2 separate regions of the Homo sapiens genome follow, and region 1 is linked to region 2. The links come from fine-mapping of genetic effects on gene expression. A gene starts in region 2. The other region holds a variant in brackets. All regions are shown on one strand. Distances are from middle to middle.

Evidence for each region. PIP is the estimated chance that this variant, and not a neighbour inherited with it, causes the effect.
Region 1: its variant is the best candidate, but not a certain one, in a credible set for the expression of STON2 in blood mononuclear cells (TOPMed, PIP 0.73).

The regions. Positions count from the first base shown.
Region 1 is chr14:81,420,697-81,428,852 of GRCh38, reverse strand. It overlaps a transcript of STON2 not described here. Among named protein-coding and RNA genes, the nearest start is that of STON2, 24 kb to the right of the region's middle. RefSeq lists an enhancer at 873-1,377. The variant A/T (reference allele first, on the strand shown) is at 5,026.
Region 2 is chr14:81,396,454-81,404,609 of GRCh38, reverse strand. It overlaps STON2 (stonin 2), which reads left to right and starts at 4,286. Exons shown (of 8, transcript NM_001394390.1): 1 at 4,286-4,331; 2 at 6,030-6,315. The coding sequence starts at 6,228.

The DNA of each region.
Region 1 (8,156 bases), 24 kb before region 2:
TTTGAAGTTAGCTAACTGGTTTAAAAAAACCAAATGGGATACTTTAAATGAAAACAGATTTTATTTGTTTGCCTTAGAAACGGAAAACATTTATCTTAAGTTTTTTTGGTTTTTGTTTCTGTTTTTTTTTGAGACAGAGTATCATTGTGTCACCCAGGCTGGAGTGCAGTGGCAGGATCTCAGTTCACTGCAGCCTCTGCCTCCTGGGTTCAAGCGATTCTCATGTCTCTCCTTCCCCAGTAGCTGGGACTACAGGTGTGTGCCACCATGCCTGGCTAATTTTTGTGTTTTCAGTAGAGACGGGGTTTCGCCATGTTGGCCTGGCTAGTCTCGAACTTCTGGCCTCAAGCAGCCCACCTGCCTCAGCCTCCCAAAGTTCTGGGATTACAGGCGTGAGCCACCATGCCTGGCCCATTTGTCTTAAGCTTTTAAAAGAGAATAATGATAATGCCATGGTTAAGTGGATAAGGCTGGGGTGATCCATATTTGGTAGACGTATCCAGTTATACGTTGTTTAAATGTCGTCTATTATGTGAACTCAGAGCTGTCAAAAATAATACTTTGTGTTTTTCCCCATCCTTGCCAAACATAAAATATTCATTTTTTTCTAAATCATTCCGTGTCCCTACATTTCCCTCTACTTCAGACTTTGAACAGTTGAAGGGTGGAAAACTTTTATCATTGCTGAAATTATCAAAAACACTATCAATAGCTATCATGCGTTGAGTTTTACGTCCACTGCTGAGTGGTTATACCATGTTATTTTACTTAATTTGCACCTCAACGCTGTAAGGTCAGGAGGAGTAGCATCTCATCTAAGGAGTAGCATTACATGAGGAGTAGCATTTCATGAGACAGAGGCTGGAGCTAAGTACTTTGTCAAAGGTTGTAATGGAGCTGGGCTTTAAACCTACCTCTCTTAATCGCTTAGATCTAGAAGCTATGCCCTGAGTCACTGTGGTATCTGGAAGCAAAAGGAAATGTGCTCTAAAGAGTTAACAGGGGCTATCTGTGCACTCTGGCCACACCCTGGGAGATGCCTGGTAGGAGGAAAACTGCTTTTGTTTTTGCACGGTCAGTTCACAGTATCAGCAGGGCAGTCAAAGCACACTTTTTTCTCTCTCTCTTTTTTTTTTTCCCATCTCATCCTTATTCTTTTTGTTATGATCTCTAAAAAGTTGGTGAGTTAGGGAGTGAGGATCTATTTGAGTAAATCCAGCATGTTTCTCAGTCACCACCCATCAACCTAATTGGCATAGGCGGGGCTGTGCTGTCTGCAACACAGCCAGCTCCTCCAGCTGTGCCATCCATCATACTCAGGCACCCTGGAGCGCACATGCTCTGCTTCCGGTTGATTTTAAGTTCCCGATTCCTGAGCAGGCCTTGGGGAGGCAGTCCCAAGGAGTCAGAGTTGTTTGCTGTCGCATATCAGACTCCGGTCTGGGTGACTTGGCTGGTCACAGCACAGTGCTCCTGGGCCCAGGGGCTGTGATCTCCTGTCATTTGGTTGCCATTTTCCTGTGAAGAGGGTAGAGAATATGCACCCAGTCAGGTCAGGCACTTTGCAGAGGTGGGTCCTGGCTATAAGAAAGCCAGATAAGAGTGCAGGTTCATTTATGCATGTATGTTTCTACTCATAGGAAAACAACTCACGAGGCAAAAAAGTACATCTCGTGGATGGAGCAGGGCGAAGTGGTTACAAGTACAGACTCTGGAGCCAGACTGCCTGGGTTTGAATTGTGCGGTTTCAGGTAAGCTATTTAATCTCCCTGAGCCTCAGTTTCCTTATCTCTGTAAAGGGAACCTACTTCATAGGGTTATGAGGATTATATGATAATTTAATTAAATGAACAGTAAAGCACTTTGACATCAATGTCTGAGAGATGAGAAGTGTTACGTAAGTGTTTATCAAATAGCACATAAAAATAAAGCGGTAGGTGAACATCATGATTTGTAGGTTACACAGTGCTGTGTTAGACGAAGCTTACGTGACTACCTCAGTTAAGGTACTCACGGTGAGTTATGCTCAAACGAAATCTTATAAAATGTCCTAGGGAAACTAGCCATTTTAAAGAATCATGTGAGAAATATGTATGTAAACTGCCTTTTTGTAAAATGAACATGAGAGAAACTGTGTCAGAGGAAGCGAGAAGACAAGGTTGGATGACTCGATGTTTCGGGCGAGGGGGACTGGAGGGGTAGAGTGCCATCATCTTGGATGGGAAGGGTTCTTGCCGCAGTCATTTCAGGGAAGGGAGAGTCGCTGGTCAAATCTGGATGCGTTAAGTGTGAGAGTCTTGTTAGATGTTGAAGTGAAGATGCTCAGTGGGCACCAGGAGAAGTCAGGTGAGAAGTCAAGGCTGGAAGCATCTGTGTGGGGGGTCCCTAGCTTATAGATGGAATCTAAAGCTGTGAAGGAATGAAGGTATTTAACAGCTGGAGAAGGGGTCCTAGGGTTGAATCAGGGGACATGCCAGCTTCACTGGGAAATTCAAGCTGGCTCGAGGTTTCTAGTTTGTGCTTTTCTTCACTTTGCCAGTGTAAAATGAGGTATGGACCCATTGGCATTTTCTTTGGGTGGTTTTATCATTTGAGCTCTATAATCCCATGGTTAGGTGCCTGAGTTAAGACTAGGGTCGGATACCATTTGACCTCTTACTATCTTTGTGCCCTTGGGCAAGTTACTTAGTCTCTGAGACTCAGTTTCTTTGCCTGTGAGATGAGAACTGGTGGTTAAAAATGCCCATCTCATAGGTGTGAGGGCTCAGTAAGTGCGACATTCGTGCTGTGAAGCTGTTCACCACTTTATGTCTTGAAAGATTCTCACCGTTCATGTAAATTTGTTAAAAGTGAGGAGTGGTGACAGTCACATGTGTTTAAATCCCTTTGAATTTTCCCTAAGCTGAAATCCGAATTTTAATTCCACTTATATTGCTACTGTTTTTCTTCTTTAAAAAAAATAATAAAAGAGAGAGGTCAGGGAAATACTATAGTAACTATACACATATGCCAGAGACTTACGTTTTCTCTGTAATTGAAACATTACATCCAGCGATCAGATCTGGCCTCTATATGTGGTAATTGCTACAAGAATCGCAGATGCTCAAGCATTCAGAGATATGAAAACTGAAACACAGAACAAAAGAGATACCACTGGATGACAGTGTTTTAGTATTACGTATAATAACCTCATGTTTGCTCTTTGCCACCATGAGCCAGGTAAGAAGGTTCTCTCACTCTTCCCTAAGATACTAACCAATCTTCCCTACTTTTTTTTTTTTGATGGCAGAGTTCACTCTGTCGTCCAGGCTGGAGTACAGTGGCATGATCTTGGCTCACTGCAATCTCTGCCTCCTGAATTCAAGTGATTCTCCTGCCTAAGCCTCCCAAGTAGCTGGGATTACAGGTGTGAGCCACCGTGCCCAGCTAATTTTGTGTTGGTAGTGGAGATGGAGTTTCACTTTGTTGGCTAAGCTGGTCTCGAACTCCTGACCTCAAATGATCCTCCCTCCTCCTCAGCCTCTTAAAGTGGTGGGATTCCAGGCATGAGCCACCAAGCTCAGTCTTCTCTACTATTTTAAATCCAAGTTTTACACTTGGTTGGAAAATTCCTCTAATCCATTTTATTTCACTTAGCAAATAATAATATTCTGAATCTGTTTCTAAAAAACTCTCACTCTCAAAGCTAAATAAGAACCCAGAGATGTGGAGAATCACATTCTGAAGTCTTGTCACTCCATTCTCTAATTATTATGTCTGCTGTATTTGCATTTATGGTTTATATGCTTTGAATTTGTAGCTTTTCTGTTTTGCAAGAGTTACTGTCAGTGAGACATCTACCAAAAGAAATACTGCTATTAGTGGTGTCAGGACCAAATGTATGTAACAGTGTGGTGTGTTTCTAAATCCCTACTGTGGTTTTTGAGAAACTGTCTCTAAATGGGAGAGGGTGATGTGAAGACTGAAAGAAAAAATCTTTAGAAACAACAAAGCAGAAACATTAATAGGAAAGAGCTTCCAGTGATTAAATTTTTCTTTTGGTCTTTCAGATTGAGAAAGTAAGGAGAATAGGCATACATGGTGGGAAATTTCTATCAACTTGGAAAAAACAATAGAATACATAATTCTTAGCCACTGAGATGAGAGCCCAGGAAGTCACAAGGTCAAAGGATCCTGTCCCATTGTCTGTGGTGACAGCCTGTCCTCCCACTATAAGGAATGCCTTACCCTTAAACAATGGAAGTGTCCCTGAGAAGTTGAAGAAATGCATGCTGATGGAATTTTAAAAATCATATCATTGTAGAAGTACTCCAGTGATTATACTTTTCTGTATTTTCCATTTTTTTTTTTTTTAGTGAGAGTGTATTCTGTTTATAATAAAAACAGAAATCAGAAAAATATTTTTTTTTGATATGGTGTCTTGCTTTGTCATCCAGGCTGGAGTACAGTGGCGCGATCTTGGCTCACTGCAACCTCAGCTTCCCGTGTTCAAGCGATTCTCTTGCCTCAGCCTCCCAAGTAGCTGGGGTTTTAGGTGTGCGCCACCACTCCCAGCTAATTTTTATCTTTTTAGTAGAGATGGGGTTTCACCATGTTGGCCAGGCTGGTCTCAAACTCCTGACATCAAGTGATCTGCCTGCCTTGGCCTCCCAAAGTGCTGGGATTATAGGCATGAGCCACCGTGCCTGATTAGGAAAAATAAAAGAAGGAAATAAACTAGGAGTGTGGGGATGAGTGAGTTGTCACCATTGAAAGGTGCTCATTTGCTCACATTTTATACTGTGAGAATTCTTTTGTCCTGCAAGCTGTGGCATTTCATAACATACCTGCTCTCCACATTTAGAATTTACTTTAAACATAGGGGATGTCAGTAGTGCATTTCATGTATCAAAACCTCAGACTCCACTCTACCAAAGCAGCCAGGCCTCAGTCAACAGACATCGACTCTCGCACTGTGCCAAGCCCACCCAGTGTGTCCTGGTTCCTTGTGGCTGTCCCTGGCAGTTGGAGACACCCACATGCCCC[A/T]GCCTTCAGTCAGCAGACACAAACTTGGGATGCGTCGGTTTCTTGTTTGTGAGAGGCCTGGTTCACAAGGATAACATCATGATCAGCCAGGGGCCCCTGTGCAGCTGCCCCATGAGGCCACTGCAGCAGCCTGTGTTTTAGCCTTTGGCCAGGCTGTTTTGGTTTTATGCCCATGCGTCTGTTTTGTTGGGGGAAGAGGGAGGGGAAGGATTCTCAGAAAAGGGAAGGACGTATCCTCCGCTTTGCTGAAAACGGAAATAAGGAATTATCAGTTCAGGGTCAGTAGAAGCCACAGTGCCTGGCTTCCTTCTGCTGGGCTCCTCTGGAATAATTTTGTTTTGTTTTGAAAGGCCCGAAAGCAACTTGAGCCAGATAAGTTGTTCTAGGGTGACAGTTTTTAACAGGGAGTCCACAGATCCCTAGGACTTTGAGAAGTGTGTCTGTGAAGTGCCTTAAATTATAATTAATGTTGCATGTATGTGTATTTTTCCAGAGATGAGAGTCTCTGGCTTAAATTATAACTCAAAGAGATTCAGAGAGCTATAATTTTTTGTTTAAAGGCTAAGAACCAGTTTCAAGGAGAGGCCTTCAAGTCTGAGTTGTACATCTTGGTCTTGGCCCTAACTTGAGAACTCTTCCTGGTTGGTGACTTGTGTACGTAGTGATAACATCAAGAAAAGTGTGCAGCGCACCTTAGGTATACCTATAGAAGGTCATGTTGCAGGAAGATGAAGATAGTTTCACTTTTTCAAGTGCTGGAAAGCTGGAAATCTAGAAATCTTTTTTTTTTTTTGAGACAGAGTCTTGCCCTGTCTCCCAGGCTGGAGTGCGGTGGTGCCATCTTGGCTCACTGCAACCTCCGCCTCCAGGGTTCAAGCGATTTTCCTACCTCAGCCTCTTGAGTAGCTGGGATTACAGGTGCATACCTCCACACCCAGCTAATTTTTTTTGTATCTTTAGTAGAGACGGGGTTTCACCATGTTGGCCAGGCTAGTCTTGAACTCCTGACCTCGTGATCTGCCCGCCTCAGCCTCCCAAAGTGCTGCGATTACAGGCGTGAGCCACCGTGCCTGGCCTGGAAGTCTAGAAATACTAGGTGGACCCACAGAAACCCGTGCACTTACTGAAGCCCATGCTGCAGAAAGATGGTTTCACTTCTTCAAATGCTGGAAAACTGGGCATCCAGAAATCTGTGACCTCTGTCCTAATGCCTCCTATTCTCTCCTTTCTCAAGCACACTCAGAGCTCCCTTAATATTCTGTATTATCATAGTATTGACTAGTTGGAATGAACACAAATATCTCTTTTACCTGGTGTCTCAGTGTGTTTGTGTTGCTGTTAAGGAACACCCAAGACTGGGTAATTTATAAAGAAAAGAGGTTTATTTGGCTCATAGTTCTGCGGGTTGTACAAGAAGCATGGCGCCAACATCTGCTTCTGGTGAGGGCTTCAGGTTGGTTCCACTCAGGATGGAAGGTAAAGGGGACCCAGGTGTGCAGAGATCACATAGCAAGACAGCAGAAACAAGAGAAAAAGGAGGAGGTGCCAGGCTCTTTTCAACTTCAGTTCTCGCAGGAACTGAGTGAGAACTCACTCACTCCTGTGAGAATGGTACCAAGCCATTCATAGGGATCTGGCCTCACCATCCAAACACCTCTTACTGAGCCCCACCACCAACACTGGGGATCAAACTACAACAGGAGACTTGGCAGGGCCAAACAAAGCATGTCCAAATCATAGCACCTGATCTTCTGCTGAGTTCTAAGATAATCCAGGCCCTCATGATGGTGACAAGATAACACATTTATGAGGAACTTCTTCCAAGTGGCTGTTTATCCTGTGCTAAACACAAATGACCTTCCCCAGGGTTCCAGCCTTGGTTCTTGTTTTTCCTCTTATTATTCTGAGTTACCCAGTCCAAATCCCCAGCTTCCAGTGGCCTCTCAGTCTGTGTTTTTAGCACTCATCTCTCTTCTTCTGAGCTCTAAATCTGCCTATTTAACAGGTCCTAAAGACAACATCTCAATGTGGTTGTCCCACGGGCCCATCAAATCACTGGGCCTAATGCTAAGCTCATCACCTCCCTTTTATGTCCCAACCATTCTTCCTCTTGAAGTCCTTATCTTGGCAAATGGTACAAAAATTGATCCAGTTTTCCAAAGGTTTTTTTCATCCACCTACTGCATCTTTACTTCCACAATCTCAATGAGTCCAAAAAAGATTCTATCCCCATATCTTGATAACATTACATCCTAAATGGCTGTAAAAACACCTTTCCTCTCTATCCCCCATCTTGCGATGCCTAATCACTCTAATTACTAGCTGGTCTTTTCACTCTCTGGTTGATCTCTCTCATTGCTTCCAGAATAACCTTTTTCTAAAAAACAAATTGGGTCATGTTATTTCCCTGCTTAAATTGTTTAATCGATCTCCATTGCCTTTATGACAAAACCCAGCCTTCTTGGCATGGCCTACTGGGCCCTGTCTGACCTGACTCCTAGCTCTCCAGCCTCCTGTCTTACTTTTCTCCTTCTGGCTCATTGCTTCGTCAAAGTAAATCACCTATAGTTCAGAAAACATATCTTTTTATTCATCTTCTGGACTCAGTAGGGGCATAATACATTTTTAATGCAGCTGTTTTGAGTGGAGGCCTTGAAAAAACTATTGCTCTTCACATTCCAAGTCGGGTAACAAAAAGACATCCTCATACCGTCTCAGTGCTTCATCCCATCCCTGCCCCCTGACCTATTTCTAACATTAATGCTGAATCTCAGGCCATCCTTGAACATGAACCTCATTTCTGAGCCTCTCGTCCTCCCTTCACATCATGCCTTATTCATGTCCAGATCCCACCCTGTCTGTGACACACACTGCAGGGGTTGGGGTCAGTGATGGGTGATGTTCAGGTGTGAGGTTAGGGAGGGGCAGGTTTGGGGGTGGACGTAGGAATCAGGGAGGTTGCATACACCCTTTGATAGCAAACAACAGTTTTGCATGTTAACGTGAGTGGTTAAGCATGGCTGAGTGCAATGGTACCCTCTTATTGACCATTTTGTATTGTCATGCTTTGTTCTTATAGATACCATCCTGCCAGCTTGGAATGTCCATTTTCTCCACCAGTGACCCCTGCC
Region 2 (8,156 bases):
ATCACATGGGCCTGCAGAGGTCAAGGCTGTAGTGAGCTGTGATAGTGCCCTGTACTCCAGCATGAGCAAGAGTGAGATCCTGTCTCAGTTAAAAAAGGAAGAAATATAGTGTGGGCTACTTATATATGATTTTAAATATTTTAGTAGTTTCATTTAAAAAAGTTGAAAGGAACTGGTGAAATTAATTTTAACAGTATGTTTTACTTAAGCTAATACATCCAGGATACCATTTTAACATGAAAGCAGTATAAAATTATTAGATATTTTACACCTTTTTATACTCTTTAAAGTCTGGTGTATATTTTACACTTAAGGAACAACTCATTCAGATTAACCACATATCAGTAGTCCCTATGTCTAGTGTCTGCTGTATTGGAATTGGATGATATAATTTTAGATCAAAGAGAAAGGGGAATGAACATATTTCCCTATATCTAGATTTTCTCCGAAGCTGTTTTACACATAGTGTTTAAATTAACCTTCCTAAAACATTTATTAACGTCTCAAAAGAGCTGAAGAGGCTACCTACTGTATGTTAAGGCAAATTCATTCATTCAGCTGGTTACCCAACAAGCATTTACTAAAAGCCATACCCTATTCTAAGAGTTAAAGACATCAATAAGCAAAAGATCAAGTCCCTTTCCTCATATAGCGACATTAGCAAATAATTTCATTATAATTTGGTAAATGAGTGTAAGTTAAGATAGTATCAGCATTCAGAAGATATGGGGGATAAAGGGCAAGTGGGAAGTGTGGTACTTTACTTATTGGAAGTTGAGGAGTACCACCATAGATCAGAGTTTTTGGTTGCAAGCAACAGAAATTAATTTTGGCTAATACAAGCAGGAAAGAAGTCTATTCAAGGGTATGAAAGAGCTCATTGGATTGCCAGATGACTCTCAAACGTGGCTTGGAAAATAGGTAGGAGCCATAGGACCTAGCCGGCAGTAAACAGAGACAGAGTCACACCATGGGTCTGGTTAGGATGCTGCACTTGTCACCATTGCCACGGAATTGAGTTGTGCCTGCTTCTGGGCTTGGGTCAAGTTTCCATTGTTCGCATGCCACTCTTGCATGTATTCAAGGCCCTTGTACCTTTTAGCATTCCCTCAATATTCTAGCAGCCGTTGACAAAGCCTGGATTAATTGCCAGGAGGGATGTAAAGATAATATTTTTTTTCTCGAAAAAGAAAGGAGTTTTGGGTGTTGAGTAGGCAAAAGACAATGAGCATGCATATTATAAAGGTTTTATGGCAAAATAATTTGTGTTCTTTATCTTTGCATTCAGTGATTGCCACTTGGCATAAATGCTTGTTGAGCCAAGCCTGAGATAATGATTGAGCTAAGACTTGAAGGTGAGCAGGAGCTCATGAAATAAAAATGTAGGGAAAATGTATCCCAAATATAGTATTTAATAATGTATTAATATATGAACAAGTGATCGAATAGGACAAAGTATATTAAAAAACACAGTCTTTCAAATAACTCAGTTCATCAGGAATATAGGATTCACAAGGGGAGAGAATGACACATGGGATTAGAGAGGTGGATCAGGGCCAGATTCACAAAGTGCCTGCATTTATACGACAATTTTTATTGAGCTGCTAACCTGTGCCAGGCACTATGCTCAATGCTGAGGGTATAGCATGCAACCCCTGCTCTCAGGAATCCTTTGTTCATTTCTCATACCTCATTTTATCCTGTGAGGAGACTTTGAGGAGCTGTAAGCAGAGCTGTAGCATAGCCATTTTCAGGTTTTAGGAAGATAACTCTACCATAATAGGCTGGATAGTAGGTTTGAGCAGGTGATACTGAAGGCAGGGAGACAGGTAGGAGACTTGCAACTGTCTGCGTGAGAGATCATGAGGGGCTGAGCCAAGGCATTGGCAGTGGGATTGGAGAGGGTAAGCTCCAGAGCTCAAACTCGTTCTGAAACTTAGAGCTCCTTTTCCAGGATGCTTGACACCCTCTTCAGATGAACAGAGTGTAACTCACTGTGGGCTAGACATACCATTCCTGCTCCCCCTTCCTGAGTGCCTGTGCCCCTCAGCTCTTTTGCTCAGACCCCTCCTTTCCGGCTTAGGGTACAGTTCAAGACCACCTATAGCTCAAGCTCTCAGAAGTCTCTTAACACTCTTACTTGCTGCTGTCCTACTTTTGGTGACTAACCACCAGAATAGGTTAGAGAGCAGAGGTTATTGTTTTAGGTTGCTGTGGTATCTCCCTGCAGTTGACAGCTGCTTGAGGGCAGAGATGCTGTTTTGTTCTCCCTTGACCCTCAGGCCCTAGAATGGGCAGAAACAGTACATGTTCCTGATGACTGTGCCCCCCAACTTTGTGAGACACACCGGAGGTACTGATGGCTGAAAAATTCCATCACCACGCTTCTGTCCAGCACTGTCTGAGGAAGGCTTATCTCCCTTAAGCACACTTCTTGAGTCACTCTCTGCTTTTAAACCTCCCACAGCTTCTCATTTCCCCTTGAACTCTCCTTAGCTTTTATGGTCAATCAATCCCTTCACTCCATATTCCCCCAGTAGATACCTCTGCTCTCATCAGACAGAGGCTTGTTCAGACAGAAACACACCTTGTTAAGGTCTGCTTCTGATTTTTACTGTCACTTGCGGTGATCCCCTGTCCAGAGGCTTCCCTCACTTGTCCCTCTGTTGGTCCAGAATCAAGGACATCCTTCACATCTCAGAAACCCACCCAGTCCCATATGGTTCCAACTCTCAGAGATCTCCCTACGGCTAAACTGTGGCAATTAGAGGACTGTCATAAGACAAAACTACTTCTATGACCCCCATCTTATCAGACAATTGCATTCTCCCTTCTACAAATTTTTGTATAATGCTGAGAAAGAAGTAGCTCTCTGAAATGGCAACTCCAAGACTTCAATGAAACTTTTAGCATCTGTTGGTCAATCCTCCTGCTGATACTGAGTCACCACTCATTTGTGGTGATTCTAAACCTCATTTTATGATTCACATTCTAAAAATGGGGTGAGGTTTTTACCAAGCAACTAATTCCAGTATGAACTTAACCTCACAATTATTGGGTTCTTCTGTGGGTTTCCAGCTGCTTAGCACAGCACTTTTCAAGGTCTGATTTCTTATGGCTTATTGGTGTGGCTCTTCCATGGCAAATACCTAAAATCCATTTTATGGATTTATGGTATGGAATATGATGGGGGGTTCCATGTGATCAATTTGTTCCACCAGTCTTCATTGGGACCACTCATTGTCTGTCACCAGCCCATGTCTGGTCTGGGACAAGTGAAGGAAGGATAGATAAAGTTTTGGGGCTCTTTTTTCGTTCATACGTTCTGAGGAATGGTCTTGGTACTTTGGCCAGAATGCACCTATATCTATAATGAAGAGGATTTAGAATCTGCCTTCTGGGCACTGTAGCTGAGCACATGACTCTACTTAGCATTTTGAACAATGACTGAAACCAGATTCTGCAAATGACAGAAATGCAGTGGTTTCATGAAATCTGCATTCCAGTCCCAAGACTTCTACGAACAAGTTACGCAACGTTGGGCGAGTCATTTAACAATAGCAGCAGTGCTGGCGATGGCTAACATTGGTTTGGAATGGAGCCTGGGGCACAGTAAGCCCTCTGTAAGGTCACCTGCTGTTTTCATTGTCATCGTTACAGAGGGTTTATTACATCCAGTCCTTAGTACTTGGCGTACATTATCTTGTTTAATCCTCGGAATTATGGAGTGAGTTTTATTATTCTTTCTGTACAAGGTTGAACTGAAGCTTAAAGAGGTTGAGTTATGAGTCCACGACTGTATAGGACTCCAAGACTGTATAGGACTCAAATCCGAACAACCTAACTCCTGGGCCTGTGATCACAATCTCTATTCGTGTGCCTGATTTCCTTGGGCCTCAGTTTTCTCATAACACCTGAAGTTGTTGATCTTTAAAACCTTTCAGTTTAAAATTTTTAAATATTTTCCTCTTACCTTCACCTTCGTCCCCTGTTCTCTTCCCTACCCCACTTATCCATGACTTTTGCTGGGTTCATCATTGCAGGATTGGCAGGATGTTTTCCCCATTGAGTGATGACACTGCATGTGTCAGCATAGGGACTTGTATTGTGGGTTTTTTTTTTTTTTTTTTTGACGGGTGCTGTGGGGCTGGTTTACATGCTGCTGTCGTTGAAAGAGGAGGAATCTGACTCTTCAATTTTACTGCCTTATCTTGGCCCGCAGCCATTACCACATTGAGTGACACACATTTGACAGGGCTTGAGAAAGTCGTCAAAGGCAGAAGCCAGTGGGAATCAGCTCTTTGTGCTTGTGGACCCTGCACTGCTCTCTGGTAAGATCTGGTTTGGGAGACCTGCTCTCTCCAGGCTGTTTGCCTATGTCTGGCCTTGTGGTTGGCAAGGATCCTAGGAGAGGGACTTGGAGAAGAGGCTTCTGGGCTTCCCATCCTTTATACAGCTTGGGGTGTGCTGGCAAACTTTCACATGGGGAGTTTCCCGGACATTTCATTACAGTTCCATTGTAATTGATATTTGTAAAGTACTTAAGTTGGGTGATAGTCTATATGTACTGTATTCTGTTGTACTTCTTTGCGGCTGTGACACCAGGGTTAGAGTGTTTTGGCTGCAGAAGACCTGGGCTCAAGGGTTGGATCTATCACTTAGTGTGGTGCTTCAAACACACCTGCTTGTTATGGCTTTTACTTGATTATTCTTTGGGTGAGATCTTATTATGAAGAAAAGTCAGCCACTGTGCTGAGATTTGTAAACTCTTCCACTTAGCCTGGAGGAAGCATTTTACCAAAAGGGCCTGGAAGCACTAAAAGTATTAGGTAAGTCACTTAATTTTTCTCAGCCCAAATTTCTTTATCCATAGAAGAATTAGAGTACTATGAGTCCTACTCATCAAAATGGCTACTGAATCAAGTGAAGTATGGTATGAAAATGTGTTTCTGAAAATTATAAATTCTATATAAACATTAGTTGTTTTTAGGAAGCATCATATGCCAAAACTGTTTTAAACACCAAAAAAGCAAAAGCTGTTCATGTTTTTACCGATTTTCCCACCTAGAGATTATTTACTGCAGATGATAACCTGTAGTAAAATTTCCTAAACTTTTCATTGTGCAGCAATTGGAAGACTGTGAGTTAAGTTGTTCTAGAAACTATCTGAATATTGTGTATATTTAGTTAATAAGAACTGATATTGTTCAAGGTATATAGTAGCTCTTCTATGGAAGCACATTAATTTTAGATAAATTCAGATTTTATTAATTCATTATAAATCATTATTAGATCAAGAGCTAGGTTCAGGTTGTAAAAAGATATTAATACCATGAACAAAATTATGTCAATTAAGAATCTTTCTGTATTCCTAGAACATAATTGCAGTGTGAGCAAAGGCTAGACCATTGTAACTAATTTAAATAGGCCTAGATTGAAAATGTTACTCTAACTCACATTTTTCACTACCACAGATGTTCCCTATCCTCTTACTCCAAATGAACAAGATCACTTCATTTCTATTTTTCTTGATTGATAAACCATGCTTGGAGATACCATCTGGAGATTGTTGGGTTTCTGCCAGAGATTTAAATCAGGTTTATAAAGAGTTACCTGCCTAAGGCAAGAAACTGGACTAATTTAATAGAAAAGAACATGCTTTTATTTTGCCAGCTAGTAAGAGAAAGTGAAAGCATTTTGAAAAGTTTTAATATTTGTTTAGCAATGATAGTATTATAGATGACAATATTTCTAAAATACAATAATTAGGGAAATTAGAGAATCTAATTGCTGAAATTTGTGTAATTATTTGCAAGTGTGATATGAAGGCTTATCTAGAAACCTTGATGCTAAAGACAGACATTTCAGTATAAAAGGTGAGGGCATGACAGGAACAGAGTGAAGTAAGGCAAGTTGGAAACCACCCCAAGCCTTCTTGTGGGCAGCGCTAAAAGCCCTAGACCTATGTGGATTCAGTGTAATGTGATGGTTATCCTTTTTAATTTTTTGTTTGTTTGTTTGTTAAACAGATTTCTGCCTGGCAGATTAACCAACGGCAAGAGAGGCTGATCTGTCTACATTCTGAGTACTGCCCTTGGCAAGACACCTAGAACAGACCCTGGACCCAAGTCTACCGTACTACCATACCCCTACTCCAGCCCACCCCAGACAGTATTCTGGGGTTCACCTGAGGTCAGCAGTGTGAAGATGACCAGTGCCTTTTTAGCATGACGACTTTGGACCATGTGATTGCCACCCACCAGTCAGAATGGGTCTCCTTCAATGAAGAGCCACCCTTTCCTGCCCACTCGCAGGGTAAGGAGTGCCTTCGTTTCCTAAAGTGAAGAGATTGTCAAAGAACCATGTCTATTTGTTATGGCTTCTACTTGATTATTCTTTGGGTGGGATCTTAATATAGAAAAAAGGGTCAGTTTCTCACTTTCTTTCTTGAGATCTTAGAATCCTAAGTGGAAGAATTTACACACTGAAAAAGCATCTTGGGAACCTTAGGGCCCTAAAAAGAGGCTTGGAAACACCAAAGGTAGTGGCTCTTTTCTCCCAAGAAACAAAAACTTAATATTTACCAAATACTTTACTCTCAGCCTTTTTAAAATGTAGTTATTAAAAGTAGTTGTTAAAAGTGACAGGCTCTGGAGCCAGAGTGCTTGGGTTCAAATCCCTGTTGCACCAGGGATGAGTGATATGCTTTTGGGTAGATTATTTATTTAACCTCTCCATGCATAGCTTCATTATCTGTACAGTAGGGATAATCAGTACCTATCTCACAGGTTGCTGTGAGGCTTAAGTGAATTCATACATAAAAGTGCTTAGAGCAGTGCCTGGCACGTGGAAAGAGCTCAGTACGGTCATCCTTGATCATAAGGAGGATGACTATATTGACTTTGGAGAACTTGTGCTCAGGGATGAAGGTCAAGGTAGGATCCAGGAGATATTTGCAGAGACATGTGAGTTGGTTCTGTTCTACTACAGCTACCAGTGCCAACTGAAGTCATCCCACCGTCATTTATAACACCTAGAAAGTGTGAGTCGACAGGTATGCTCTCCAATATGGTGGCCATGTGGTTACTGAGCCCCTGAAATGTGACAAGTCTGAATTGGGATGTGCTGTAAGCATCAGATACCTATGCTAAATTTCAAAGACCTAGTTTAAAAAAATTAAATAGCTAATAATTTTATATTTCTTACATGTTGAAATTATAAATTTTCAGCATTGGGTTGAAATGTGTATTATTAAAATACTTTCTCCTGTTGTGTTTAATTTTTTTCATGTGGCTACTAGAAAATTTAAAATTACATATGTAGCTCACATTTTATTTCTGTTTGACGTGCTGTAGAGGCTTTGAATACTTGCAGATGGACCGGTTGGCTAGTGATGGGAGAAAAGATTTTATATTAATTATTTGATTAAAAACCTTTATACAGAAAAATTGACTTCTTTTGTTGTACAGCTGATGAATTTCAGCACATGTATACATTTGTGTATCTACCACCATAATCAGGATATAGTTTTTTTGTTGTTGTTGTTGTTTTGAGACGGAGTTTCGCTCTTGTTGCCCAGGCTGGAGTGCAGTGGTGCAGTCTCAGCTCACTGCAACCTCCGCCTCCTGGATTCAAGCGATTCTCCTGCCTCAGCTTCCCAAGTAGCTGGGATTACAGGCATGTGCCACCATGCCCGGCTAATTTTGTATTTTTAGTAGAGATGGGGTTTTGCCATGTTGGTCAGGCTGGTCTCGAACCGCTGACCTCAGGTGATCCACTCACCTCGGCCTCCCAAAGTGTTGGGATTATAGGCATGAGCCACTGCGCCCGGCCAGGTTTTTTAATTTCCAAAAAAAAAATTTTTGAAGGCTGTTTAATTTTCTGGGGCCAATCAAGTGATACAGTGCTGCAGAAATAACCTCTAGGTTACATTCAGCTGGTCATTAGTGCACATGGGTTTGCACCTGGTGTCCTGTGGCTGTGTATAGCTTAGACTGCAAAGAATTTGAAATTTGAATTTGAATGTCTTCAGACAGAAGTGCTCTTGTTCAGCCACAGTCCCCACCAGTCCCTTTTGCCTTTCACTTGTCTCACTTGACTCAGGTATATTTCCTACTTGACCTCTGTAAGCACTTTCCTTTGTGACCCCCAAGCAC